4 linked regions of the Homo sapiens genome follow. The protein of the gene in region 1 interacts with the protein of each later gene in a biochemical or structural test. Each region holds a gene or a part of one and is shown in the gene's direction. Other genes may lie near its edges. The genes, in order: FAM20C, ENAM, AMTN and CALU.

Region 1 (7,307 bases):
CTGGCGGGCAGCATGTTCAGTTTGCCGCCATACCTGCCACTGCCCTGCCCTGCACCCCAACCCTCCTTTGCTGCTGGTTTCAGAAGTGCACAGAGATAGCAATGGCCACAGACCCAGTGGGGTTATGAAGCAAATGTGACCTTCAGGCGCCAGCCCACCATCCGCATTTTATTTTTAAGTAGCTCCTGGAATCCTCATCTGGCCTTGCGCCTACCCAGGGCCCTGTCAAGGCGAATATTATGTGGGATCGTGGAAAGTGGTCTGTTCTCAGAGTTTCTAGCAGCAGAGACTAGTTCTTAAAAAGGCCGTGGGTGGTACACATCTTTAACCCCCCATAAGAAACGTTCCGGGAACACGGAGAATTGTGGCCACAGCTTTCTGAGAACAGCGTGGGAGGACGGGAGCCACGGGCTGGTGTGTAATTGACGGCCTGTGACCCAGACGTGGTCCCCCCGAAGGGACGTGGACATGACATACAGGACCTGTGCCCCACCCCGCTGTTCGTGTGGCGATGATGTCGGCCCGTGGCAGGGCCAGGATGCTCCCAGGAGTTGGGCGGACCTCCGCTGCGTATATGGAAGGAAGGACCCGGCCGGGGAAGCCGAGGGCTGGGAAAGTGACCGGGGCGGCGTCTGTAGTCTGCATTGCTGGAGTGTTGGAGCCCAGACGGAACACAGTCTGCCCTGAGTGGGAGGTGTGGGCTGCAGGGCGTGCGAGCTGGGGATTCCCGCCAGCTCTGGTTTCCAGCACCTGGAAAGGTCACCAGAGTTTGAATCTGGTAAATTCTTCCTGGATTGGGGGCTGAGTTCCCTCCCTGGGCCTGGCATGGGAGGACATCCTGGGACGGGCTCTCCTTCCAGTGGAGGCAGGGGCCAGCCTTGGTGGAGGAAGCCTGGGTTGGAGGCTGAGTTCCCTCCCTGGGCCTGGCCTGGGTGGACGCCCTGGGACAGGCTCTCCCTCCAGTGGAGGCAGGGGCCGGCCTTGGTGGGGGAAGCATGGCAGGGGCCGGCCTTGGTGGAGGAAGCATGCTTACACGCTTACACGCTTACGCGCTTACACACTTATGCTCAGACACGACCTTGACAATTCCTCCACGTTTCCACCATGACCACATCGGTCAAACACTTGCGTGGACCGGCACCTCACAGGGCCCTGCGGCTAGGCTCCCCTTCCCCTGGAGTATTGGCCTGAGATACAGGAGCCCTATGGTGTTTACAGAATGGCACTGACCTTTCATAAACAGCCCCACCTGTGGCCTCCTGTCCCTTGGCCAGGGTGGAGGGACAGGGCGGTGCCCACATTGCCCTTCTTGGGCTCTTACTGTGGGAGGCGTCCACGGCAGAGCCAAGGGGTCCTGGAGGCCGTGGGGGAGACTCGGAAACCAGAGGGTGGGCGGTGCCAGGGTGCACACAGCAAACCGGGGCTGAGCCAGGCCTGGGACACCGAGCCCAGCCTCTCCCCTGCGGTGTGACTGTGGGTCCCAGGGTGGACGTGCCGGGGCCCCCAGCCAGTGCAGGAGAGGCCTTTGAGCAGCTTACCTGAGAAGGGCCCATGGGGAGCTGGGACCTCCGGCCTCCGTCGCAAGGGCCTGCGCTGCTCTGAGGGCCCGTCGGCAGCTGGGTCAGGGCCACGGGGAGCTGGGACCCCCGGCCTCCGTCGCACGTGCCTGCGCTGCTCTGAGGGCCCGTCGGCAGCTGGGTGCCCAGGGTCCCGAAGGCTCAGGGTGGCCCTGAGGAGGCTGGAGCTCCACCGCATTTTTCATATGAGGAACCCAGCACGTCCCGCCTGCCTCCGGCCCCTGGAGGCTTTCTCAGTGACAAACCGTTTCTGTTTCTGTCTTGTTTTCTCAGACAAACGAGGGAGCAGGAGACACCCCCTGACTTTTTTTATTTCTCTGACTACGAGAGGCACAATGCGGAGATTGCTGCCTTCCACCTGGACAGGTGAGCCCTTCCTTCCTCCCTCCATCCGCGCTCCCGTGCGCTCAGACCCACCGGTGAGTGAGGCCGTCCTGCACTGGACACAGCAGGACGTCATCGTCACCTTCGTCACCATCAGGCAGCGCCGGTGCCTGCTCTCCCCCCACCCCGAGTGCTGCCCTGAGCAGGGTCCTGTATGTCATCGTCACCTTTGTCACCATCAGGCAGCGCCGGTGCCTGCTCTCCCCCCACCCCGAGTGCTGCCCTGAGCAGGGCCCTCTGTGTCATCGTAGCCCACACAACACGCGGTAGGGAGAGCCTTTCATATCCCCCTTTACAGATGAGAAACTGAGGCTCTGTGAGCGGCGATTTGCCCAGGTTCCCACGCTCCTAATCATCCCTCTGTCACCGAGGGAGAGGGCGCCTGCCCTCAGGGCACCTTAATCCAGATGGGCCCCTCCTGCACCCCCACAGTTCAGGCAGATGGGAGGCACAGAAGCTGCTGTGCGGTCGGTAATAGAGGAAAAGGAAAGAGGGAAGGAGGCAGGGAGGGAAGGGGGAGTATTAAGTGCTGCGAATCTTAACACAGAGACTCACAGAGCACAGGCTTCTCTGGGAGACCAAAGCAGGCTTCCTAAGGAGGGGGAAGCGATGTTTGTGATGAGGGGGCCTGGGAGGCCCCACGGTCGCCTGTCTCCAGAGGGGCCGCCCCAGCCCAGCAGAAAGTGAACCCCTTGTGAGGGTCAGCTTGGCCCTGCTGCTGGGAAAGTGGGGGGTCCGTGTTCAGTGCCCTCCAAGGGCAGTAAACGGGCCTGGCCCAGGTCCAGAGGGGCCCCGTGGATTGAAGGACCTTGCCCTGGTGCAGTGGAGGGAGGAGGCGCCACCCTCAGCCCCCAGAGCCTCCCTGCCTGCCCTGCACGGCCCTGACACGTCCCAGCCTGGGGTGCGGCCCCAGGGCCGGCAGCATTGGGGTTGCCCTGGGCTAGTTGGAATGCAGAGTCCTGGGCTCCACCCAGACCTGGGACAGAATCTGCATTTTAACAAGATCCCTAGTGACGCGGGCGTACATTGGAGTTTAAAGGGCTTTTTTAAAGATCAAAGTCTTCTGTGGTGACTATAGAAATCGCCAGAAGCCAGATTTTCCACCATTTCAGCTATCTAGAACAGCCTGAACCCAAAAAGGGCTTTTTATGAAAAGAAAGACGGGGAGGGTCATTAGGAAACAGCCCCCCTCGGGTCCACCTGTTTATAAAACAGGACACAGAGCCCAGCACCCAGGCGAGCCGTCTGACAGGTGGAGGGGGAGGGTGCTCCACGCAGAGGCGTGGTCGGGCCTTGGGTCCCGGGTCGGCCCTGGCAGACGGCCCACGTCCCTCCACACCTGGTCACCTCGCCTCACAGGACAATCACCACGTCCTCCGTCAGCAAGAAAAGCTCTCGCCCTGCATTCTCCATTTAATTAAGCGAGTGGGAGCCTGTGGTGTGGTTCAGAAGGAGTTCCATTAAAAGTGGCTCCTTTAATTTAATTTTGTTTTAAATTTAGCCCTGGAATGAGGGCAGGCTTTAGCTATGCAGGCAGTTGGTGCTGTGTGCCCATCAGTGAGGCATCGCCAGCCCCAGTCCCTCAGGGGCCTCTCCCACCCCCATCACCGTGGGGCCAGGCAGAGCCACCGGACCTAGGGCTGGGTTTATTCGGAGGCAGGGACACAGAGGCCCGCTGAGCCGCACAGAGCACAGACCCTCCCCTGCCCCGTTCTTATTTGGAGGCAGGGACACAGAGGCCCGCTGAGCCGCACAGAGCACAGACCATTCCCCGCCCGTTTCTTGCCAGGATCCTGGACTTCCGCCGGGTCCCTCCCGTGGCCGGCAGGATGGTCAACATGACCAAGGAGATCCGGGACGTCACACGGGACAAGAAGCTCTGGAGGACCTTCTTCATCTCTCCAGGTAGCCTGGCACGGGGGCCCGCATTCATCTCTCCAGGTAGCCTGGCACGGGGGCCCGCATTCATCTCTCCAGGTAGCCTGGCACGGGGAGCCCACATTCATCTCGCCAGGTAGCCTGGCACGGGGGCCCACATTCACCTCTCCAGGTAGCCTGGCACGGGGGGCCGCATTCATCTCTTCAGGTAGCCTGGCACGGGGAGCCCACATTCATCTCGCCAGGTAGCCTGGCACGGGGGCCCACATTCACCTCTCCAGGTAGCCTGGCACGGGGGCCCGCATTCATCTCTCCAGGTAGCCTGGCATGGGGAGCCCACATTCACCTCCCCAGGTAGCCTGGCACGGGGAGACCACATTCATCTCGCCAGGTAGCCTGGCACAGGGGCCCGCATTCATCTCTCCACGTAGCCTGGCACGGGGGCCCGCATTCATCTCTCCAGGTAGCCTGGCACGTGCCCTGTGCCCCCTTCCACACCAGGGTGCTGACTCACAGTGCTGTTCCCAACCCACCTCCCACGCAGGGGTGCCCTGTGCCTCCTTCCACACCCGGAGTGCCAGCCCACGGACAGCTTCAAGGTGCCACCATCAGGGTTTAACCAATGTCCTTCTGTGCACAGAGAGACTGTTTCTTCCATTTCTTTGTTTATTTTAACTGGTGAAACGATTCACTTTTGGGAGGTCCTAGCCTCTCCAGGAAGCCTTCTCCAGGTGGCCCAGCCAGCAAACATCCATGGGACCTCCCCACTCGGACTTAAACACACTCAGCAGGACCCCCGTTGTATAGTAACAGGGTGGGCGGCCTCCCCCGCCTCGGCGAAGTGGCTGGACTGTGAGCAGGGCTGGCCCAGGCCCCTGGTCCCTGGTGCCCTTGAGGGGATACAGGATGGCCTGAACGTTAGGCAGGAATAGATGTCTTTGTTGGTGCTGAGGTTTATAAAACCTTCAAGACTCTACGTGATAAGTACAGCGCACACATAAACACATGATTTTCTACTTAATTATCTACCCAGGTTGCTTTAAACCTGACATTTGGGCTGGGCGTGGTGGCTCACGCCTGTAATCTCAGCATTTTGGGAAGCCAAGGTGGGAGGATCACTTGATTTCAGGAGTTTGAGACCAGACTGGGCAACGTGGTGAGACCCCTGTCTACAGGAAATTAAAAAATTAGCCAGCCGTGGTGGCGCTTATCTGTGGTCCCAGCTACTCAGGAGGCTGAGGCAGGAGGATTGCTTGAGCCCAGGAGGTGGCGGCTGCAGTGAGTGGGGGTTGCACCACTGCACTCCAGCCTGGGCAACAGAGTGAGACCCTGTCTCAAAAAAAAAGAAAAGAAAAGAAACTGGCATTTGTGGCTCTGCCGAGGGCTCAGTCCTCCTCTCCAAGCGCCTCTCTGGTACCAGGCCCCTGCTGCACAGCCTGTTCCCATTTCCGATGCTCACCTGGCTGAGCTCTGGGGACACTCTCCTACCTGTCCCGGACTCGGTCCCCTATGTTTCCATCTTGAAGGTCAAGAGTGGTCCCAGCGATGGTGGGCCCTGCAGAATGAAGGGACCCTCACCCCAGGAAACCCTGCAGAGCAAGGTCCCCACTGGGGAGGGGCCCTCCGGATCGGAGGCTCTCACTGTAGGGGGCCTCAGCCACTCTCCTGGCCCATCTGTTTAATTCATGCAGATAAAATCCAATTAGGGCCCCTGATTAGCTGCGTCTTCAGATTTGCTGGCACATAAAACCTTGACCTAAAAGCTCATTTCCTGCAGATGTTTCAGATCGATGTACGGACTCTGCGCTTTCTCTTAATGCATTCATGAATTTGTCAGAACCCGGCCCCCGAATCCATGATTTAATTAAGCTCCGTTCCGTCAGCCAGGGCTCACCGAGATCCTCATTTGCTTTCTTCCTCTCAAAGCCCATTAATAAGAGAAAAATAGGACAGAAAGCTCCACAGAGGCGGGAAGAAGGGCTCCCTTCCCTGGCCCACTGGTGCCTGGCCCTACACACCAGGAATCGGGGCAGAGGCAGAACCTGAGCGTGGGGGTCTTTGAGGGCTCCCCGGTCAGCTGTGCCTGAGCCAGGCACACCTCCAGTGATGGGGAACGCATTGGCTCACAGACAATTCAGTCCCTGTTTGGATGGCTTGAGCTGTCCATCTTTTTTAAGGGGCTGAAACTCGCCTCCCCACCCTGGGAGTCCAGGGCTTCCTAAGCACGCCTGAGCTCCGGCCGCTGTCAGCCCTTGGGTCGACCCTGACCGCACTGTCCAGCCACCGCCTCCTGCCCCACCGTCCACAGGACTGACCGCACTGCAGCCCGCCATGCACACCCTGGTGCCCACGGAGGCTGGGCTCCGCTCCAGTGATGCCTGGATGCCCGACTGCTTCTTATCCACGTCTTTTTACAATTTTTATTGCAACTTTTAGGGTGATGTATTTCAAAGGTTCCAAAGACTGACATTCCCCATCCTCAGGTGCCAGCGCCCCATGCAGTGACTGTGGGAATTCCTCCAGCTTAAACTCCATTCTCTGCATTGCAGACCAAGCTCTCGGTTCAGGACCGATTGAAAGAGACGGTCACAGGGTCACGCAGGGAGGGGTCAATGATGCCCACTGATGCTGAGAACATGCCCTGCCTGGCTCTGCTCAGAGCAGCATCTCCGGAACTCCTCATTTTGTTGTAAAATGAGCCTGTGGGGGCAGGTCGTTTCCTCCCCGTTTCTAAGGTCTTACTGAGTGGCCGGGCACGGCGGCTCACGCCTGCACTGAGTGGCCGGGCACGGCGGCTCACGGCTGCACTGAGTGGCCGGGCACGGCGGCTCACGCCTGCACTGAGTGGCCGGGCACGGTGGCTCACACGCCTGCAATCCCAGTACTGGGAGGACCCCTTGAGCCCAGGAGTTCAAGATCAGCCTGGACAACGTAGCGAGACCCCATCTCTACAAAAAATGAAAAATTAGCCAGGTCTGGTGGCATGCATCTGTGATTCCAGCAACTCAGGAGGCTGAGGCAGGAGGATGGCTTGAGCCCAGCAGGTCTAGGCTGCAGTGAGCTATGATCGGGCACCACTGCACTCCAGCCTGGGTGACAGAGTGAGACCCCGTCTCAAAAAAAAAAAAGACTGAGTTGATTATTAGTCCAAGCAGGTGAATTAAGTCACCTCTATGTCCCATGTTGGCTGACACTTGGAATCCCCAGGTCCTCAGCAGGCCAGGGACGGTGGTCACCGGAGTGCCCCTGAGCTCTGTGCTGCAAGGCGGCCATCGACCACCTTTGGTGCCGTTGCTGGAATCCCTTCTCACGTCTCCCTGGAGCCAGCACTTTATTAAGCGCTCCAGCAGCTTCCCTGGCCACTCCTGGTTCTGGATATTAGTTGCGTTTTCCAGGGCAGCGCAAGTTTCTCCCCTGAAATCCAAGACTTCCTCGGCCACCAGAGGCCCCAACAGTTCCATGTCCCTG
Region 2 (7,307 bases), on another chromosome or scaffold:
TATTTTTTAAATGTTAGCTCTTCTCTTTGTGTTCCGTTAGGAACAATTGTTGAGCTTATTTCAACTGATGTTCTGCATTTGTCACTGACATTCTCTTACTTCCAGATGCACATGCCCCGAATGCCTGGATTTAGCAGTAAAAGTGAGGAGGTATGTACGTTCAGTCTCAGAGGAGAAGTTATCCAGAGTCCTATCCTACACATTTACTAAAAAGGAGAATATTGGAAAATTGTCTCATATATAATATTTCTTATGAAAAAGGTAAAAAGAGGGAGATTTGAAAGTCTTAAACTCTCAAATCGAGGCAAAGTAGTAATTTCCCCAGCCATCAGCCTACCTATGTACTTCAGTGTTCCTTTTCAAGGTAGATGTGGATTTGTGTTAAAATCTAGTTGATGTTACCTTATCTGCTAAGTTTTTTAGCTAGCAAAAGTGACCAATTGTACCAAGGGTTATTAGAAGGTAGATGCTTAAAAATAGAAATACCTTTCACATGACTCATATCCCAGATCATTAATCAAATTCAATACATATCAGAAAGATGAATCATCTTGTCACATAATTCTCATGTTCTCAAATCCTGAACTCAAAAAGAATAGAACAGAACATTCAAAAACTTTACAGTAGATCAGACTTTTATTTTCTATGATTCTCTATTGATTATTCTCAAAATAAAATTCTGACTTAAAAGTTAAACTGCCTGAGAAGCTTCTTTAATTGTATACTTTCTTAAAATTCAAGCATAAGTAGGAAAAGGTGATATGACTGTTGTGCATTAAAATCAGAAATTTTTACACTGGGAAGTTCTAAGGTTAAAAAAAGAAATTTTACTTATTTCTTACGATTTGTGCATTGATTTAATAAAAGTTTCACTTTGTATCACATTAATGGATTCCTTTGGTTGCAGATGATGCGGTATAATCAATTCAACTTTATGAACGGCCCACATGTAAGTTTTTCTTTATGTTATTTCTGATGATTTCTTGTTTATCTAGATAACTCCGTTATAAAGTTTGCCTTAGTCAATAGAGACACCAATCCACATGTTTTAAGTATAATGTAATCATTACAAAAGTTTCAAGGTGGAAAAATTATTGCCCCTATCCTCTCACACCAAATTTTCTTCTTATTCATTACTATTGTTCTTTCATGTAAATCAAAATAATTATTAATGAGAAATGTTATTTATTTGAGACTGAGTCTCAAATGTATAGTCAAGAAAAGATGGTTCTGGGAAAATATCACATAAGATGTCACAAATAATGACAATAAAAATAACATAGTAAGTATTGGTGGGGGGTAAGTTTTACTTGGATTATCTTGAAAGATAACACTACAGTTATGAAGCAAGTTTTATGTTATTTAAATAAATATAGGTTATTCTTGTCACTGTATGCTAATTGTCAGAACAGACAAATCAAGTATCAGGTGGTTCTTTGGCACAATTTTTCTGATAAAATTGTATGTTAGCATAATAACACTACACATCACTTTTGATTTCCATGGAATGATCATGAGGGCCATTTTGAGGGGAAAATCAAGGACTACATCCATTTTTTTGTAACCCTTTTTATCCAAGTCATTCTCTTTTAAAGCTCTTTGCCTAAAATAATCATTGTAAATTTCCTCTTCCTCAACTTTTGATTGGCTCAACTTTTTCATACCCCTGTTTTTAGTTTTAGTGACTTTACCTGTGATTTGAAATTTTTACCAACTTAGTTGTCATGAAATCCTGTGTCTTAGTGCAATATTTGCAATTTTGAATTTCATCAATCCACAAAGCGTGGGTACATCATCTAATAGATAGCAAGAGACTAATTAATGAAGACTGGGTATAGAGACAGGTGTTAAACCAGGGAGGAAATATTTGAATGAGAACTGATGTTGCAAGACTGATCATTCATAAATTATCATAAATTTAGAAATTAGCATTTTTATAAATTATCATAAATTTATAAATTAACATTTTTAGATTATAACTACTTTTGCTTCCCTGCCCAACTTTGTAATTGTGGTGATTCTGATAAAAAAATGGATTTAATGAGGATCCACCTGTAACCAAGAACCATAGACACCATATAAGTGTGTTTACACAGACTGAATTTTTATCCTCTCTTTTCCTTTTTTTCTTGTTTTTTATTTTTTGTTTACAGTCTCACTTCCTTTATCTTATTTTTGTTTTTTCTCTTCTTCATCCAGCCTTATAACAAATCACATGGGTTCTGAATACGACATTAAATCTTCTGTAACCTGACTTGTATACTTCTGACCTGAGTTAGGGTTTCAGAGTTAGAAAATCATCAGTCAAATTCTTAAACTGAGATTTCCCACCTAATTCTGCCTTTTGGTTTGTTTTGGTTGTTTGGCTTTCTAGAAGACGGAAGTTCATTCTGTAAGACAATGTGTAAGGAAATTCTAACTAAAGATCTGGAAGCTTCCATAGTTAAGTCAAGTTCCAGGACTTTTAAGCTCTTTGGCTGAGTTTTAGAGGCTGACATTAGAGGATGGAGACAGCCTGAATCACAGCTCTATTATGATTTCACTATTATTTGCTACCCTTTCAGATGGCACACCTGGGGCCCTTCTTTGGAAACGGTCTCCCTCAGCAATTTCCACAGTACCAGATGCCCATGTGGCCTCAGCCACCACCCAACACATGGCATCCACGGAAATCCTCAGCACCCAAACGTCATAACAAGACTGATCAGACCCAAGAAACCCAGAAACCCAACCAGACTCAGTCAAAAAAGCCACCACAAAAGCGGCCTTTGAAGCAGCCATCACATAATCAACCTCAGCCCGAAGAGGAAGCTCAACCCCCTCAGGTGAGACTTGCACAGAAAAATTCCATATCTGTAAATGGCCTCGGAGAGATTTGGAGGGCCATGCCACCCCCATATACACACTTCAATACAGGTACTCTGTTGCAATACCAATGTTTGTTTTGACATGCATCCAAAACTGCATGGCAAGTCGACTCCAATCTTGTTTGGTTGAAATTACCCAAATACTGTTGCCTTTTAAAAGCTCCTTTTAAATTACAGAGACAACATGGTGTAATAATATGAGCACTAATCTAACAGTCGAGAATCAAAGGTTCAAGTCCTATGCCTGGTCCTTATTAGTTGTATGCTATTGAACAAGTTACTTCACCTTTCTAGGTTCCAGTTTCCCCATGAGTAAACTAAATAGTTTCGAAGTTTCATCCAAATCTGTGCTTTGATGCTCTAAAATATTGCTCTTAAATTAACATTGCTTCCAGTACTAGTATGACATAAGGTAAGAAGATGTGCAAATGGTTTCTCAAGATCTCATCCAGTGTGGAGGGAGCTTCGAAAATACTGGCTTTTAGGCCGGGCGTGGTGGCTCACACTTGTAATCCCAACACTTTGGGAGGCCAAGGTAGGTGGATCACCTGAGGTCAGGAGTTCAAGACCAGCCTGGCCAACATGGTGAAACCCTGTCTCTACTAAAAATACAAAAAGTAGCTGGGCTTGGTGGTGCGTGCCTGTAATCCCAGCTATTCAGGAGGCTGAGGCAGAAGAATCGCTTGAACCCGGGAGGTGGAGGTTGCAATGAGCCAAGATCACGCCACTGCACTCCAGCCTGGGCAACAGAGCAAGACTCTGTCTCAAAAAAATAAAAAGAAAATACTGGCTTTTGGTCAGTTAACACTTATTATCAGACACTATTACAGACATAGGGAGTACCAAATTGAATGAAAAGACACTCCTGGATTGGAATCCTGGCTTCAGTGATTTACGAGCAATGAGATTTTGGGCAAGTGACCAAACTTCTCTGAACTTCATGGTCTTAGTAAAATGGGAATAGTAATAGTTTATATCTTCTATGGTTATATGAGGATGAAATGAGTTTAACAATATAAAATGCTCAGCACAGAGCCTGGAATGTGTGTCCAATGATACTAATTGTTATTATCATTATCGTCTTTGCCCTATAAAAAACACAGAGTTTAATGCAAAGGGAGATGTAGACTCCCAAGTTTCAATTGTATTTAGTTAGTTTCCTTCATTTTTTTATGTATTCTTTTCAATACCACATCACTCTGATTCTTTCTTTCTCTCTAGGCATTCCCACCATTTGGAAATGGGCTATTCCCCTATCAACAACCACCATGGCAAATTCCACAGGTGAGAAATTTTTTTTTCTTTACACTGTAAGTGAAAAATAATATTAGTATGTTATAATTTAAATTAATATAAATTCATACATTCTAATGGAATACCATATACCAATCAGTAGATGGTATGAAACAAAACCAGTGCATCAGTAATCATGCAGAAAAAGAATAATTTTTTGAATTTCATACTCAGACAAATTGGTGACATAAATACAACCTAAATCACCAAACAGATACTAATAAATTAGCTAATAAATTAATTTTAAAAGGTTGCACTACTTCATTACTATTTCCCCACATCCTTAAGAAATTTTTAAAAAACACACAAATTATCTTCATTTAATGTAATGGGGAAACTGGGACACAGGACAAAATGGAGTTTGAAAACCACAGGGTGAGCTATGATTAGACATTTTCATCCTATCTTACTGTTTCTAGCCACAGATATATCATTATAAAGAATCTTGGGGCTGGGCAAGGTGGCTCACGTCTGTAATCCCAGCACTTTGGGAGGCCGAGATGGGTGATCACTTGAGGTCAGGAGCTCAAAACCAGCCTGGCCAACATGGTGAAATCCCGTCTCTACTAAAAATACAAAAATTTGCCAGGCATGGTGGTGCATGCCTGTAATCCCAGCACTTTGGGAAGCCGAGGCAGGCGGATCACCTGAGGTCAGGAGTTCGAGACCAGCCTGACCAACAAGGTGAAACCCCGTCTCTACTAAAAATACAAAAATTAGCTGGGCATAATGGCAGGCACCTGTAATCCCAGATATTCAGGAAGCTGAGGCAGGAGACTCACTTGAACCCAGGAAGCAGAGGTTGCAGTGAGCCGAGATCGTGCCATTGCACTCCAGCCTAGGTGACAGAGCGAGACTCCGTCTCAAAAAAAAAAAAAAGAGATCTTGCAAAATATTGTTTACAAGAAGCCTCAAAGAATCTTAAACGTTTAAAATCATTAAAATAAAAAATAATATTGAAATTGCATCATAGGCATTAAAAATACGAATGGCAAAATAAACTTTTTGAACTAAAGAAATGTTAAAGGCCAGTTGCTGCTAAACAAACAAAACAACAGGAAATATTTGTTGACTGTTCATTCAGCTATGACATAGGTTTTCCTTGTCTACAACTCTATTACCAAGAAGGCTTTTTATCAGTGAGGAACAATTCATTTTAAGGAGTAAGAGTTCCTTACATTTTTCCTCCTTAAAAGAGTGACTTCCTTTTACTGGCTATGCTGAACTAAGGAAATTAAGGCAGTACAAGGTAAAGATTTTAAAAACAGATAAACATGATTCTCATGCTGAAGTAACTATTAATCTCATCTACATAAAACTTGAGAAGCAGAAACTCGGCCTCCAAGTTTGATTAGGAGAATTAACTTTAGTCAAATAAAAATATCATAGTAATAATTCAAGGATTGTCAGTTTGGAGTTTGTCCCCCTAAACATGAAGCCACATTCTAAAAATAACATCGTTACTTAATCTCTATTATTAGATGTTCTAATATGGATACTTGGATTCTAACAGCACTCAAATTTCTCTCTCTCACCCTCTCTCTGTATGTGTGTGCATGGTGTGTGTTTGTTGGGGGTTGTGGAGGGTATGTTTTTGAGTGTTGGAGGTGGTAAGGAGGATTGCCAACAGATGCAGCCATACAGAGTATTTTAAGTAGGATAATCTAGGATCCAGCTGAAGCCTTTGTATTTACCAGTATTCACTGTTAGATCATAATTCTTAGCAGCTGGACTGTGAGAGCTAATAACTCAAACGCTAAAAGCTCAGAGTACTAACTGAGCTCAATCATTGACTTGAGCTATTTTTAGACACCCTGAGTCTTACAAACAAATGGCGGCATCGAACGTGGTTTTCTCCTGTGTTCACTGTGTTTTTCACTTCTCAGAGGTTACCACCACCAGGTTATGGACGCCCACCAATCAGCAATGAAGAAGGGGGGGTAAGTACAAGTAAAACTACATTCTCCACTAGAAATTACAATCCATTCGCCCCTGCTTTTTTATCCACATCTAATAAGAAAGTTAAAATCCAACACATGAACCTGTAGCTCAAGCTTCCGTGATTTTTAGAAAATAAAAAAGTTAAACAAATCAAGCCAGTGGTCCAAAGATTGATGGTGGACTCCAGACAGTGATAAACAGAGAAAGAAGTAAGAGTTTCTTAGAATGTTATCCTCAAGAGGAAATTAAGTGATCTCTAACTTCCTGATTATATTAATACAAATAAATTGAAGCCAAGAAAAGATCAATTACTACTCAATTTCACTTTTAAGTTACTGGATAAACTGAACCCAGAACCCAAGTCTTCTGTTACTCTGCTCAATGGCCTTTTTACTATACCACACTAGGAGAAGAACCAAATGTATATCACAGAGTGATATACTCTTAATATTCCAGCTCTATGTCATCTAAAAAGTCATTTTAGTGATTGTGGCATAGCACCCCACCCCCCTGGAGCTTACTTCTTTTTCCCTAAATATGTGATATGTCCTCAGTGAACTGTGGTAACTTAATAGCTTGACTGGAGAGTGGGCGACAGATTGTTCTTTTTTTTTTTTTTTTTTTTTTTTTTTGAGACAGGTGGGAGATCACCTGAGCCTTGGGGGTGGAGGTTGCAGTGAGCCATAGCACCACTGCACTCCAGCCTGGGTGACAGAGCGAGACTATCTCAAACAAAAGAGAGGTTGGCATTACCTGCTCTAAGAGGTCCCTTTCAGCTTTAAGATTATGTATATATACATTTTGTAAGTAAGTCTTTTCATCTCCCACAGTCTATTATTAGCATGGCAGCCAGAGTGAACCTGTGAAAACAATAGTCTCATCTTGTTGCTCCTCTGCTCAGTCCCTGCAATGACTGCCAATTTCTTATCTTTCTTTTCTTTCTTTCTTTCTTTTTTTTTTTTTTGTAAGACAGAGTCTCGCTCTGTCATCCAGGCTGGAGTGCAGTGGCACGATCTCGGCTCACTGCAACCTCCACCTTCTGGATTCAAGCAATTCAGTTCTCATACCTCAGCCTCCCGAGTAGCTGAGATTACAGGTGTGTGCCATCACACCCGTCTAATCTTTGTATTTTTTTAGAGATGGGATTTCACCATGTTGACCAGACTAGTATCGAACTCCTGGCCTCAAGTGATCCAGCCACCTCAG
Region 3 (8,116 bases), on another chromosome or scaffold:
GACACCACAAAATACATACTGACCTTCCATTTGACTTTGAAACTACACATTTTCTCGATTGTGTCTACAAAACTGAAAGTAACTGCCCAATTGACAGTATCAACTCAAAGAACATAAATTCCCAGCACCTTCCTTACCCTTACCTAAAGCGTTATATTGTCGTCCAAACACTGAAATCATTAATTAATTCCTCACACTAGTACTGTATCTCTTACCTTCCCTTCAGCATCCTCATCTGTTGCCCATTTGCAGGGTGTTCTTTCCTATTTTAAATATCACACCCAAGCTTTTTTTTTTTAATTCCATAAGTGTGTAATTCTATTGTTAAGTTGAAATATTTCTACATAGGCCAGGTGCAGTGGCTCATGCCTGTAATCCCAACACTTTGGGAGGCTGAGGCGGGAGGATTGCTTAAACCCAGAAGTTCAAGACCAGCCTGGGCAACAACATGAAACCCGTCTCTACAGAAAATTAGCCAGATGTGGTGGTGCGCACCTGTAGTCCAGCTACTTGGGAGGCTGAGGTGGGAGAATCACCTGAGCTGGGGAAGTCCAGGCTGCAGTGAGCCAGGAGAGCCAGGATAGCGACACTGCACTCCACCCTGGAAGACAGAAGGAGACATTGTCTCAAAAAAAGAGAAAGAAAGAAAGATGTCTACACGGACAGAATACAAAGTTGCCACACTCTTGCAAGCTTAACCCTATTTCATGAGTAAATTCGGTATAATATAGCCACATTTGTAATGACATTGTACACTGAACTTTATCACTTATGACAAAGGTCAATTCAATCTGCCAAGAAGTCTGAACATAGTTTCCTGATACCCCCTCTGGCAAAACTTTAAAAGATTAGTAAAAACCTATATAGTTTGATCTATTTAGTAGAATTTCAGATATGTTTAATTCAGTGGCTGTTTTTCGGGCACCTACTAAACTACTCCATAGAGAAGTTGCTCTACTTCTGGCCTCCAAGCGTAAGTCCGGTTTCCTCTGGGGACTGGTTGACAATTTTAAATACTTTTGTAAATTTATAAAGGCAAACAAGTCAATTCAATTCAACCCATATTTATTGTTCTATCACATACAAGCTGAGAGCTAAAGAAAATATCAAAACATATAATCTTCCTTGAAATTTAATATCTCAAAACAGTAATCAAATAACAATGGCATCAGGTGAGGTAGAATAAAATAAATAACAAAGTCATGAATTCCAAAAGCATCTCAGAGAAAGAAAAGTCTAACTCCAAATGAGAGGAACAAAAAGAAAGGCTTCATGAAGGTGGTAGCATAAAGAAGGATCTTTAAGGGTGAGTAAAACATTGACAGTCAAGGATGAAAAAGAGGACTCCAGGCAGAGGAAATAACATGAACGAATGCAGAAAAAGAAGATCAAAATGCATCTTTTCTAGCCTCTTGTGCATACATCCATTTTGCCTCTACCACATTATATAGTGATATGAGACTTGCTGCATTTTCCACAAGAACATAAATAAGGGCTTCCTCTTACTCACTTTTGTACCCGAGCACCTTGTACAATACCTTGTCCAGTACAGTGGAGGCTTCTGTTTAGTAGGTATCAGGGATTGCCATGCATCAAGAAATGCTGAATGTCGTTTACAATTATCAAGGTACTTAATTTGTTCAATCAAGCTATTACTATAATTAATGATAATCTTGTGCGCAGAATCCTTTTAATGTTGTGAGTTACCAAGTGGTGTAAGGAAATATAGAAAATTTCCAGTCTGTTTTATCCTTTCATTGTCAAAAAGATGCTCTTAGACTGAGATTCATAAAGAGTGCCTCAGGTCTGGGTAATCCTAGATCTTCCTATATCCATTGAGTGTGATGGAGTTGGAGAGAGGGTATGTTTCTTGCCTTGAGAAATCCTAGAAAGCACAGGGATGACACAAATCACTAAGGAATTCCACTAAGACTCCTCTAACCCAGAGATTTTTAACCTGTTTCTTTATAGTTGGGCTCTCAGGAGATCCATGAAATCCCTGAAGTTATTTCATAATCATTACATTCATAAGCATATATGCATTTTTCTGAGGAGATGACATGTGCATTCAATCAGCTTCTCAAAAGGGTCCATAACCCAAAGAAACTTACAACTAAAGCTAATAAGAAAGATTAAGGAATGCCTGGAACTAAAGGGCTAAGAGATGTGTCCTATAGTTCATAAAACACTTTAATGAATTCTGATGTTCTATGTCATTTTGGAAACATAAATTATCTCACTGTTTTTGCTGATGTCTCCTTGTCTTGGAATGATTTAAGAATTCTTTTCCTTTTATAATATGTATTTCTTGACTCCCAACTCCGTAATCACATTATTGCAAGTTGTCTGCTTTCAGACTTAAAATTTCTTGCCTAAGAAATTACTCAGTGTTTTTAATTTTGCTTGTTTATTTTGATCTAATCCCACTGACTGCTCAGTTTCCTGGCTAGGGCATGTCCGATTCCCGCTGAGGGTTGGAGTCATGTCTGCAACAAGCAATTGACTCACTGTGAGGTCCCTAAATCACCTGATGCCCAGTCACGAGGAATTATTCAATTCAAATAAACTATTGAATAGAACCACATTCTAGACTAACACTATAACACAGGTCTCCTCACCTAAGCCAAGAACAACAGTGACATAAAATTCAACTCTACCTCCACCCAAAAAAAAAAAAAAAATATATATATATATATATATATACGTATATATATATATACGTATATATATACATATATATGTATATATATACATGTATATATATACGTATATATATATATACGTATATATATATATATATATATATATATATGACGCTCCCAACCCTCTACATTCACTGAAAATAATGCCCAAATAAAGTAGATGCCCAGTGTCACGGAGTCCCTCTCTTGCAATGACCTGGTTGAATATTTCATATTCCCCCAACAAAACCTAAGCTCTTTAAGGGCAGGGTTTTTGTCCCTTCCATTAATTGTTTTATCCCAGACACTGACACAATGTTGGTGAACAAAGAGTGAATCTATGTTAAATGAGAGCTGGAAAAATGAATTGATTGAATAAAAGAAACAATGAATTTGCCTGTGAAAGCCCATGAGAACCTAAAGTTGCTTTCCTTCCACATCCTTCAGCACTATGTCTCATTGCTCCTCTCACTATCAGCCACTTTAACATGCTAGTCTGTCTTGTGGATTATACTTATTCTCCAAATCCACCTAAAGCCCAATCTCTTCTCTAAAATCTTCCCTCAACTCAATCTTGCTCTGTTTCCCCACAGTATATGCCTTTACCATTTATTCGTCAACATTCGATGACCATATGATGCTTTAAAATATTACAAACATGAAAGACAAGAAATATAAGATGCGGCCCCAGGAACTCTCCATCTAGTTCAAGAGAAACAAAAAGTCAAGAAATAATAAAAAAGCCATATAAAGTAATATCTGACCAAGTGCCAAAATCAGTGATAGAAACAAACCAAAAAAAGCTATAGGTAGTTAAAATTAGATATCATCTCCAACCCTGTCTTCCACTGCTATCCTCACCCCATCTTGTTCCAGTGACAGAAAGCAATGTCACTACTTCAAATCTAGACCTTTGATCAGCCTGGGTGCTCTCCTTGCGTTCTTCATAAATTTTTTTTTTATTCTTCAAATCCAAACTCAAGGATGATCTCCTCTTTTAAGCTTTTCCTGTCCTTTTGCCCCCAACAAAATTCACCACACTCTTTCTTACACCTGAATACTCCTATATTTGCACATACTTGTTGATCTTGTATTTCTCCTCCTACATAATGTTCCCCATTCCTAACAGAGTATCAGAGTAACAAACATTGATTATATAGATTAATTGAACAGTTAGAGAGAAGCTTTGAAAAAAAAATGTATCATCTCAGTTAATTTTCCATTCATAGACACTCTATAGGTTTTTTTTGTTTTTCTTTTTTAAAGGTCAAATCCCAAATCCTGGTGCGACACAGGCTCATCATTGAAATGGTCTCAGAAATTGATTAACAGACCTCCACCTCCCTTTGGGGCATATCTCAAAAATTCCAGGTGAAGCCCACAGCTTCATGGTAAAATGTTAAGTAGCACTTAACTGTTCTTCTTGTAAAAGAAATCTCAGTTGATTCCCTGTGTTTTGCTTAGGTTATAGTATCATTTTCCCTGTTTAATATAAAGCAAGCCATTCACCATTTGGCCATAAATGTACATATCCTCTGATACATTACTTAAATGTACATACCCTCTGATACATTACTTAAATGTACATACCCTCTGATACATTACTTAAATGTACATATCCTCTGATACATTACTTAAATGTACATATCCTCTGATACATTACTTCTAAGAATAACACCTACGAAAATACTCCCATATGTGTGAAAAAAAGGTTTTATAAGAATGGTGCTTGTGATACCTTTGTAATTACAAAATAAACTGGAAATGGATTAAATGTTCATCAAAATGTGATATAATGATGTGTACCCATTAAATAAATAAAATAAACCTGTATGTACTAACACATAAAGTTGTCCATTATTTGTTAAGTAAACATAAGTTCCAGAGCAATCTACATAGTAGACTTCATTTTTTAAACCTTGTACAGAGCCCTATATTTTGATGTTTGATTTATGTATTCATACTTACATGATAAAACACGTACATCTGAGAAATCATTTGGGAAGAAGAAGGAGGTGAAGAAGCATTTAAATTATTTTATTGTCTGCATCTTTTTTTAATTACATAAGGCCTGTCTCCTTGAAACACCTTCTATTCAAATGGTAGACATTGGGTAACATAATGTCTGCAGCTAATAACCCACCTAATGAAGTGTTGGGAAATGAAAAAAAAACAAATGATTTAACAGACAGCTAAATCCTGATTGGTCTCTCAGTTTCCAATCTCCTGGAACTGAGTTTAAATTTCTTCTACAAACACATACATCATTGAAGGGTAAAATTTTTCACCAGAGTAAACTTGAGAAACCAACTGGACCTTGAGTATTGTACATTTTGCCTCGTGGACCCAAAGGTAACATTAATTGACCATGTTTCAAGTAGAACTTTTGTTTTTAAAGTATCATTTTCTCTTAAAAGGAAAAAAAATACATGGAAGAGTAACACTTTTTTGTTGTTGTAGGTAGCAATCTGAAACATGAGGAGTACGATTCTACTGTTTTGTCTTCTAGGATCAACTCGGTCATTACCAGTAAGTATGTTATGTTTGTTTTATATGCCAGCCAGTTTCAACAGCATCTCTAGCTGCAGACCTACCTCTCTCCTGCCCTCCATCAAAACTGCTCTGTTTTGTGACTCATTCCCTGAGAGTGTCCAGTGTTTATTTTCCAAGACAGAAAATGACAAGCTAATAAGCTGTTGGTACATATTTCAATGTACTTGCATTTTTTTAAATGCATCCACTCCATCGTGGTAAAAGGTCAATTATTTTGGCAGAGCAATAGGCTAGAAATTAGGAGAAAAATGAATGTGTTAAGTGGATGATTATTTTATTTTCCAAAAAGAAGTTTTTTCTTGGCAACTAGTTATTTGCTCATGAATAAAGAGGTGAACTATATTTTCTAATTTTTCTACTTGGAAATGCTAAATATCTAGATTGTATAAATTCTAAAAAGACCACCAAAACATATGATATCAAAGGCATATGATTAAAATGATCAAAATTTTTGACTTAGAACATTAAATCATAAATAGTATTCACATATAACAGGAAAAAATTAAAAAGCCCTATAACTCCAACATTTACTCCATTATTTTGTAGACATAGGGATGAATGGTTTGGATCTCTAGGTGGACTTCTCTTTGACTGTTCAAGATGGTTCAAGACCATTAAGAAAAAAATTACAATATACTTGCTATGAAATAACAGAATAAAAGAAAGCATACTTAGTTGGGCCTCAAGCTTACTCAATACTTCTGCATCCATTCGTACAATCAACAAATATTTATTAAAAACTTTCTATATGCCAGACATTGTGCTAGGTGCTGAAGAAACAATAGTGAGAAGGGAAAAAAAGGCATAATCCTTCATGGTGTTCACAAGGATTGTAGACATTAATTTTTTTTTTAACTTTTTTTTTATTTTTACCAATGTCACTTGCCAATTTTTTTATTTTTTACTCAAATGATTTTTAAAGAAATGTTAAATTATAAATAATAACTGTGATTATTTATGTGAAGGAAATGAACAGGGTGGGATTATGCGGGGGGAGGATGAAGCAAGATACGGTAGCCAACCTCCTTCTTACTTTATCCCAAATACATACTACATACGTGTGTGTGTGTGTGTGTGTCTGTGTGTGTGTGTCCTCCTTGAAAGAAGTTGTCTGTAAAAGTTTAATTTTCTAAACAAGGTAAAGTATGAAGTTAATTTTTTTATAAAACAAATGGTTCTTTCACTTCGTCAAATACATTGACCGAAAGATTCTTCAAAATAGTTTCTCTAGTATATTTAAATTACCACATAATTGGTGAAAACTCAAAACAAGCAAAACTTTCCAGGAGTGCAGCTCTCATGTGAGGTGGGCTGAGGTGGAGCAGGCCGGCTGTGCAGGCCACAGCAGATTGCTAATAGACAATGAGAGCAGCTAGAGAGCTAGTGGGGCAGGGCAGCAGGGAGGCGACACTGAAATGTCTATTCAGTATGGAAACAATACCAAATGAAACATCACGACACATAGACAAGGTATTTTTTATTATTTGTAAATGAATGTATTGAGTTAGCATAAAGGTAAAAAGAGTGAATCCATTTGCAAATGTGGACACATACAACAGCCTAGCAATTATTTTCAGTAGATCAAAATTTTGAGGATAGGTACCAGATGGAAAACACAATGAGTAGAAGAAATAAATACAAGACAAATCAAATTTACAGAAAGTGAAGGCTCTAGAAGAAAACAAGATTTTATTCCTTCAACAACTATTTATTGAGTTCTTACTATATGCCAGACATGGATTTATCTTTTTGAGATGGATCATTGAATAAACCACAGTGAAGTCTATATTTTAGCAAGGAAATAAATGATAAATGGTGAGCAGTCTAAATCAGTAGGTCACATGACAGGTTAGGAGATAGTGAGCACTATGAAAAAAAGATCCCAGAGCAGGGTGAGATGGAGCAGGCTGGTGGTGCACAGTGGAGAAGGGGCAGGCTGCATGTTCAGGACAGCAGTCAGGTTTGGCCTCAATAAGAGGGAAATTCAAGTAAAGAAACAGGTGAGAGAGTAAAGCCAATGTTCAGGGAAAGAACATTCCAGACAGAGGGAACAGGTGGAGGTGAAATTCTGAAGCAGGAATGGACTTTACCTGTTGCAGAAACAGCAAAATGGCTGGATGGCCAGAGCAGAGTGAGGGAGGGGAAATGAGGTAGGAAAGATCAGAGAGCTACTGGGGGCCCAGAGCCCTGTAGACCACTGTGGGGTCTCTGGCTTTTACTCTGAGTGAAATTGACAGTCGTTGGCCAGGCACGGTGGCTAACGCCCGTAATCCCAACACTTTGGGGGCCAAGGCAGGCGGATCACTTGAGATCAGGAGTTCAAGACCAGCCTGACCAATATGGTGAAACACCGTCCCTACTAAAAATACAAAAAATTAGCTGGACGTGGTGGTGTGCACCGGTAATCCCAGCTACTCAGGAGGCTGAGGCAGGAAAATCATTTGAACCTGGGAGGTGGAGGTTGCAGTGAGCCAAGATCACTCCATTGCACTCCAATCTGGACAGCAGAACAAGACTCCACTTAAAAAAAAAAAAAAAAGAAGAAGAAAAGAAAGAAAAGAAAAAAAATTGGTAGTCATTGCAGAGACTGAGAAAAGAAGCAACAAGATTAGACCATCATTTTCACAGGGTCACTCTGGCTACTATACTAACAATAGATTGTGGGAGATGAAAAGACTTACTTACAAAATTTATATATATTATATATATGTATTTTATGTATATATATGTATATATAATCTTAAAGCTGAAAGGGACCTCCTAGAACAGATAATACCAACCTCTCTTTTTTTTTTTTTTTTTTTTTTTTTTTTTTTTTTTTGTGAGACAGAGTCTCACTCTGCAACCTCTGGCTCCCGGGTTCAAGTGATTCTCCTTCCTCA
Region 4 (7,307 bases), about 130 Mb from region 1:
GAATGATTCTTCGGTGCTGTGTATGATTATGTGCATAAAAATCTGTTGAGAGCTCTGTTGCCTCACAAGGCAGATGATTCAACGTAATGGGTATTTCTGCTGCCTGAGACTGCATAAGCTGAAGCACTGGCTGGGAAGCAATGTCTTTATAAGGCATCTTTCCCCAGAGGCATGAGGGTGGACAGCACTGAGGGGGTCATGAGTCGGCTTAGAGAAGTGAGGAGTTTTTGTTACTGTGTGTTCTTGATTCAATTTGGAGTTCAGGTATAAATCATCATAGCTCTTAGTTAAAATCTGTCTCAATGAATCCGCTATCCATGAGAGAAAGGTTAACACTGTCTCTGCCACAAGGAAAATATGAAATACTGAGATCTACCCTGCCTATAGCAAAACTAGATCAAGAGCCTACCTAAAGCTGTATACAGGCCAGCTAGGGCCAAAACTGGTGCTTAGGATAAATACAGCATTCCAAGCAGAGCTATAGGAAAATAGGTTTTGTCATTAAAAATAAAGTTTTGGACAGGCACAGTGGCTTATGCCTATAATCCTAGCATTTTGGGAGGCCGAGGCAGAAAGGTTGCTTGAGTCCGGGAATTCGCGACCAGCCAGGGCAACAAAGCCAGACCCCGTCTTTACAAAAAAAATATTAAAAATTAGCCAGGAGTGGTAATACTTGTCAGTAGTCCTAGCTACTTGGGAGGCCGAAGCAGGAGGATTGCTTGAGCCCCAGAGTCCAAGACTGCATTGAGCTATGATTGCATTGCACTCCAGCCTGGGCCACACAGAACAAGGACCTGACTATAAATTAAAAAAAAAAAAAATTGTATCTTCCTGTTTCCCTCCTTATATATATATGTGCATGTTGCTATTAGGCTATTTGAGTCCAGTCACCATTTTTACCTTTTACCCCAAGGAGGGGAGGAGAGCACTTATGTAAGAATCTAGTCTTAAAGTATAAGTTGTCTTGTTATGTTTCTTATTTATGTTACATAGTCCTGAAACCTTGTTTAGAAGAGACACTTTAGTATCTGAGAAAGGCTTGTTTGCCTTACGTTCTCCATCTCAACCTATTATGGCTTTGAGTGTGTGTGTGTGTGTGTGTGTGTGTGTGTGTGTACACAGGATCCCAAAGCCTTATGACTCGTTAAGCTGTCTGACTGAATTTTTGACACTCAATAAAAAATGAAGCTTCAAAATGCTCAACTCTCAAAATAGTACAGTAGTTTTGTTTTTGTTTCTTTAAACTGTGCTTAAAGTATGGAAAGACTGAACAATCTCAAAGGTCAGCAGTAATGATGTTATTCTTAAAGGGGCCCTGTGGGTCTTTTTTATAAAAGCAGTGTCATATCCTTTTTATGTAATCAATATGTTGCAGGAACAATAATTTCTTACCATTAATGTGGTGTCTTTTACTTTTTAAAATATCTTCATGTCTGTTATCTTAATTTGGTTTATACAGGAACGCAGATTGAAAAAGAATTTTATTTTCTGCAGTTAACGCCACATTTTTTCAGCTTAAAAAACTAAATTTCACTTTTCTATATTCTTATATAGAGACTAGATAACTGCTGCTTGTGTAGCTCGATGTCATAACAGATGGGTAGTTCCAAATTCAATTTGGTTGTAATCTAAGGGTTTTTTTTTTTGTATACCTTTGTCAAGTTATTATTGACATAAAGTGAACTGTATGTATTTAAGTGCATAATTGATGAGTTTTGACGTATGTATTTACCAGTGAAACCACCACTGCAATCACGATAATGAGCATATCCATTACCCCCCCAACATTTCCTCATGTCCCTTGGTAATCCTTCTCATTCTCGCCATTCCCCCGTCCCTAGGCAATCACTCATCTGTTTTCTGTGACTCTAAGTTAGTTTGCATTTTCTAGAATTTTACGTAAATGGGGATGAACAATACCTGTCACTCTTGGTAGATTTCTGCGTTGACTGAAAAAAAACAGAATGTGACCTTCAAAGTGGTGGCATTCTATTGCTTGAATCCAAGTGTCCATTATGTGAGGTAGAAGGCCTTTGATTTCTATCTTTTTAATGAGATCCTAATGTTTAATAAAAGTAGCAATAACTGACATTTGTTGAAAGCCAACTATGTGCCAGGCATTGTTCTAAGCACTTAGATATATTTTCTCATTTAAACCTTACAACAATCCTATGAAGCCGGCACCATTGCTAGCTCCATTTTACAGATAAAAGAGACCAAGACACAGGCCAAACAGCTAGAAAATGGTAGAGTTCAAACTCAGGCAGTATGGGACTTGAGAGCCACCACTGCCTTCCAGATGTAACTAGAAAATTCAAGCCTTCTAGTAGCCTTAATACCAATAGTGAAGCATAACAGTGAGTTACATAGTTCAGGAGCCAGAGTTCCATGTGAACTTGGAGCTGACTCTGAGATCTGATGCCTGGAGCTGTAGCCCAAAACTAAATGTCTTTGTACTGCTGCAGTTTTACCTGTGTCATCAATTATTTCTTCCTTGCATGGTTTTATCTTTATTGGAAATTGATTTCCCACCCCACACATTTTCATGTTTTCTGAAAGTCTTTTAAGATTTGACCTAAATTTTTGTTTTCTAGATGATCCAGATCCTGATGATGGATTTAACTATAAACAGATGATGGTTAGAGATGAGCGGAGGTTTAAAATGGCAGACAAGGATGGAGACCTCATTGCCACCAAGGAGGAGTTCACAGCTTTCCTGCACCCTGAGGAGTATGACTACATGAAAGATATAGTAGTACAGGTGGGTGAGATGAAGGATTCTGAACAGGGACTCAGTTTCTCTTTTTGTGGCTTATTCTGTCTTTCCCCTTTAGCCTTATATAGCATATCTTATATATATATATGCTATATAGCATATCACTGTATATGCTATATAAGTATTGGCCAGATTCAGAATCCAAGGTCTGTCACTGTTTTTCTGTGACCTTGATCAAGGTGCCTTGGGCATTCTGTTTAGTATGATAATACCTTCTGTCATATAATGTATTTTGCCATTTCATTGGTAGCTTCATATTGTAAGAATGGGGGGAAATCCCATTATTTAAAATATCCCATGACCAATAGTCAGACATTGAGTAATAACAGTGATACTAAAGAACTCTCACAGAAGGCAGTTACTGACAACATAGACTATCTATAGCTAAACACATAATCACTGGTCACATCTCCTGTTAGTGTGACTTTAGCATGACTAAGGCTACCAGGTAGATCATCATGGGCTTGATGGGATAGTTTGTCATTAAGCAGTGTCAGTGTTCTGTCAGGAAGACTCAGTTATTTTAGATTGAAGCATAGGAAATTGCTCATGTTTTACCATTTCTTGGCTAGAAATGGTTTTAACCATACAGACACACATGCATACATACATACATACATACATACATGTACAAGTGTGTTTAATGAATAATAAATGTTTACCTAAACTAGATACTTTACTTTCTTCTGGCAAATTCAGAGACCAACTTAATAGTCTCTTCTTATTCTTTCCTGTTTAGGAAACAATGGAAGATATAGATAAGAATGCTGATGGTTTCATTGATCTAGAAGAGTATATTGGTAAGTCTCTGCTTTTAGTGTTTTTCTTAGAAAAGCTGAGAAGCTTTGAAAGGTGTATTTGCTGGCTGGGCACAGTGGCTCATGCCTGTAATCCCAACACTGGGAGGCCGAGGCGGGCAGATCACCTGAGGTCAGGAGTCCAAGTCCAGCCTGGCCAACATGGGGAAACCCCGTCTCTACTAAAAATACAAAAAAATTAGTTGGGTGTGGTGGCGGGCGCCTGTAATCCCAGCTACTCAGGAGGCTGAGGCAGAAGAATCGCTTGAACCCAGGAGGCGGAGGTTGCAGTGAGCCGAGAACACGCCATTGCACTCCAGCCTGGGCAACAAGAGTGAAACTGTCTCAAAAAAAGAAAGAAAGAAAGATGTATTTGCCCATAGAAACAATTTACTCCAAGGGTCAATTCTCACTAGCTCATTAGCTGTCACCAGATCATTAACCAGACCAGTGTGATAGTGGGTTGTGATAAAGTATCCGTAGCCACATTGCCCAATCAAAATATAAATGTGAGCCCCATATGTAATTTTAACTTTTCTAATAGCCACATTAAAAAGTAAAAAGAAACAGATGAAATTTCAGTAGTTATTTAACCTAATATTCTAAAACTCTATAATTTCCACTTAATGTAAATTATTGAGGGTTTTTTTTTAATACTTAAAGCACATCCCAGCCACATTTCAAGTGCTTAATAAGCACCTGTGGCTACCATCCTCAACAGCACAGATATAGTGTATCCTGCATGCTCTATGGAACTGATGGTAAAGAGTTGCAGGGGGCTGGGCACGGTGGCTCACGCCTGTAATCCCAGCACTTTGGGAGGCCGAGGCGGGCGGATCACAAGGTCAGGAGATCGAGACCATCCTGGCTAACACAGTGAAACCCTGTCTCTACTAAAAATACAAAAAATTAGCCGGGTGTAGTGGCAGGCGCCTGTAGTCCCAGCTACTGGGGACGCTGAGGCAGGAGAATGGCATGAACCCAGGAGGCAGAGCTTGCAGTAAGCTGAGATCATGCCACTGCACTCCAGCCGGGGCTACAGAGCGAGACTCCGTCTCAAACAAACAAACAAAAAAAAGAGTTGCAGGGAGCCCAGACTGACATAGGGAAACCCAGGGAAAGGAGATAGGGAATAGATTAAAAGATGGATAAATAAATGACGGGGAGTTGCTGATCCCTCTTGTAGCCATTCCTTTTTACTGTGTTCTGTTCATATTTTCTCTCTGATTCTCTGACTACTTTCCTTTTGTTTTTTAAGTTTCTCCCTTTTGACATTTCCCTTTTTAGTTGTCTAAATTTTTTTAAAAAAATTGTTTTGGATGTCACACCTTCAAGGCTAATTTCTCCCAAGTAAAGCTCTGTTTTATTATCATCAGACTAATTTTAAGATATTCTCATTGCTTTAAAAAAAAAAAGCTGTCTTTCTTACCAAGTAGTTGAGCAAATTGTTTCCCAATTACTGTGACAGAAATTAAAATGAGTAAAGGAGCTGGGTGTGGTGGCATACCCGGTTACTTGGGAGGCTGAGGCAGGAGGATCACTTGAGTCCAAGAGTCTGGACTATAGTCACAAGTTCATCATCAATATGGTGACCTCCTGGGAGCAGAGGATCACCAGGTTGCCTAAGGAGGAGTGAACCGGCCCGGGACAGAATCAGAGCAGGTCAAAACTGTGCTGATTAGTAGTGAGGTTGTGCCTGTGGATAGCAATTGTACTCCAACCTGAGCAACATAGCGAGACTCCATCTCTTTAGAAAAGTGAGTAAAGATGGAAAGTATAAGACTGTTACTACAAATGTCATTGTTACAAATACTTTGTTTAGAAAGATATTAGATATTTTAATATTTCACATACTTATTGTCATTTGTAATAACTTATTCTAGCACACCATTGGTTTTGTGTTTCAGATAAGCCCGTTTGTTTTTAGACCTCTGATAGTTACCTGAAATGTTTATTTGAAGCCTGAAAGGAAGACTTAATCCTTACCTCTATCACCTGTCATTAAACTGTATGGAGCAAGTCACTGCTTTACTTAGATGTTGTCTTATCATACCTGTTGTTTACATGCTAGAGTTATTCCAATTGAATTACTCCTTGACTGTTTACCTCCCTTTTCTTAGGTTCAGTGGCATACTTTGAACTTTTTAAAGAAGGATGAGCAATGGAAGATAGGATGGATGTTTTCCTAAACTGATTTTTTTTTTTTTTGGAGAAGTTTATCAGGACAGTGGATAAGTGCCTAGGTGCATTTACTGAGCCCACGTTGATGTTACTAGGGTTTTCTACTTTTAAATGATTTATCTTTTTATTCTTGGCTTTTGCCATTTTATTGCCATTGCTAAAACTGAGGAACTCATTTGAACCTCCCAAGGAGAGGAATTTTTATAACTGTTAACTACATCACTTATCAAGCATTGAGGCCAAATAAGGAGATATTTCTGTCTCCCTGTGTATCATATAGATTCAAGGGCAGAGGAGTTATATTTTGAAGCTACCAAAACTATCTTGTGCATGTGTGCTTTTTTTTTTTTTTTTTACAAGTCAGTAACTAATGCAAACACTTTTACATCTGGGATGCTGGGCTTTGTAAATCTAAAATTCTCCCAAACAGTATCTTTCAGCTTCTAGTGCCCTGTTGAAGGAGATCATGAAGAAACAAAGTTCTTCGCCTCATAAATTTAGCATTAAAAAGAAGCCCCATCAGTGCCTGTGGAAACATAGGGAAAGAAAAAAAAAAACACCCAAAGTTGTGCTGATAATTATTTTTATTTTTAAAATTTATTATAGAGCATTGCAGACGTACACAACTTATTTGTTTATTTATTTATGTTTTTTTTGAGACAGTCTTGCTCTGTCACCCAGGCTGGAGTGCAGTGGCGTGATCTCCACTCACTACAATCTCTGCCTCCCAGGTTCAGGCGATTCTTGTGCCTCAGCCTCCTGAGTAGTTGGGATTACAGGCATGCACCACCACACCTGGCTAATTTTTGTATTTTTAATAGAGGCGGGGTTTCACCATGTTGGCCAGGGTGATCTTGAACTCCTGGCCTCAAGTGATCTGACCACCTTAGCCTCCCAAAGTGCTGGGATTACAAGTGTGAGCCACTGCACCTGCCCCCAAATTAGAATAGTATAATGAATCCCCATGTACCTATGCCTAACCTCAACAACAATCAACTTACAGCCAGTTTTTTCTCAGCCACATCCACTTCCTTGCTTCCTTCTTACTTTGAAGTAAATCCCAATCATTATGTCATTTCATCTGTAAACATTGAGGTATATATGTCTAAAATATATATGTGTTTCTAAAAACATTTTTTTAAAGATAATGTCAACCCAAGAAAATTAATAATACCTTCAAATCATCAAATAGACTGAGTCTTTTAAAAATAGAAATTCGGCCGAGCATGGTGGCTCATGCCTGTAATCCCAACACTTTGGGAGGCTGAGGTGGGCGGATCACAAGGTCAGGAGTTAGACACCAGCCTGACCAACCTGGTGAAACCCCGTCTCTACTAAAAATATAAAAATTAGCCAGGTGTGGTGGCATGTGCCTGTGTAATCCCAGCTACTCAGGAGGCTGAGGCAGGAGAATCGCTTGAACCCAGGAGGCGGAGGTTGCAGTGAGCCGAGATCGCGCCACTGCACTCCAGCCTGGGCGACAGAGCAAGACTCTGTCTCAAAAAAATAAAGTAAAATAAATAAAAATAGAAATTCAAATAGTTTATCATGGT

The links.
Region 2: of the proteins of FAM20C (region 1) and ENAM, one has a biochemical effect on the other in vitro, tested with the Homo sapiens proteins (one study listed by IntAct).
Region 3: of the proteins of FAM20C (region 1) and AMTN, one has a biochemical effect on the other in vitro, tested with the Homo sapiens proteins (one study listed by IntAct).
Region 4: of the proteins of FAM20C (region 1) and CALU, one has a biochemical effect on the other in vitro, tested with the Homo sapiens proteins (one study listed by IntAct).

The regions. Positions count from the first base shown.
Region 1 is NC_000007.14:244,565-251,871, forward strand, and holds part of FAM20C (extracellular serine/threonine protein kinase FAM20C precursor), read left to right. Parts: intron 1-1,850; coding exon 1,851-1,943; intron 1,944-3,750; coding exon 3,751-3,866; intron 3,867-7,307. UniProt on the Homo sapiens protein: Golgi serine/threonine protein kinase that phosphorylates secretory pathway proteins within Ser-x-Glu/pSer motifs and plays a key role in biomineralization of bones and teeth.
Region 2 is NC_000004.12:70,631,744-70,639,050, forward strand, and holds part of ENAM (enamelin isoform 1 precursor), read left to right. Parts: intron 1-105; coding exon 106-150; intron 151-907; coding exon 908-949; intron 950-2,564; coding exon 2,565-2,825; intron 2,826-4,088; coding exon 4,089-4,151; intron 4,152-5,967; exon of another isoform or gene 5,968-6,046; coding exon 6,047-6,100; intron 6,101-7,307. UniProt on the Homo sapiens protein: Involved in the mineralization and structural organization of enamel. Involved in the extension of enamel during the secretory stage of dental enamel formation.
Region 3 is NC_000004.12:70,513,622-70,521,737, forward strand, and holds the start of AMTN (amelotin isoform 1 precursor), read left to right. Parts: upstream 1-4,947; 5' UTR 4,948-5,033; intron 5,034-5,141; 5' UTR 5,142-5,156; coding exon 5,157-5,210; intron 5,211-8,116. UniProt on the Homo sapiens protein: Is a promoter of calcium phosphate mineralization, playing a critical role in the formation of the compact, mineralized, aprismatic enamel surface layer during the maturation stage of amelogenesis.
Region 4 is NC_000007.14:128,756,277-128,763,583, forward strand, and holds part of CALU (calumenin isoform a precursor), read left to right. Parts: intron 1-2,594; coding exon 2,595-2,761; intron 2,762-3,515; coding exon 3,516-3,576; intron 3,577-7,307. UniProt on the Homo sapiens protein: Involved in regulation of vitamin K-dependent carboxylation of multiple N-terminal glutamate residues. Seems to inhibit gamma-carboxylase GGCX. Binds 7 calcium ions with a low affinity.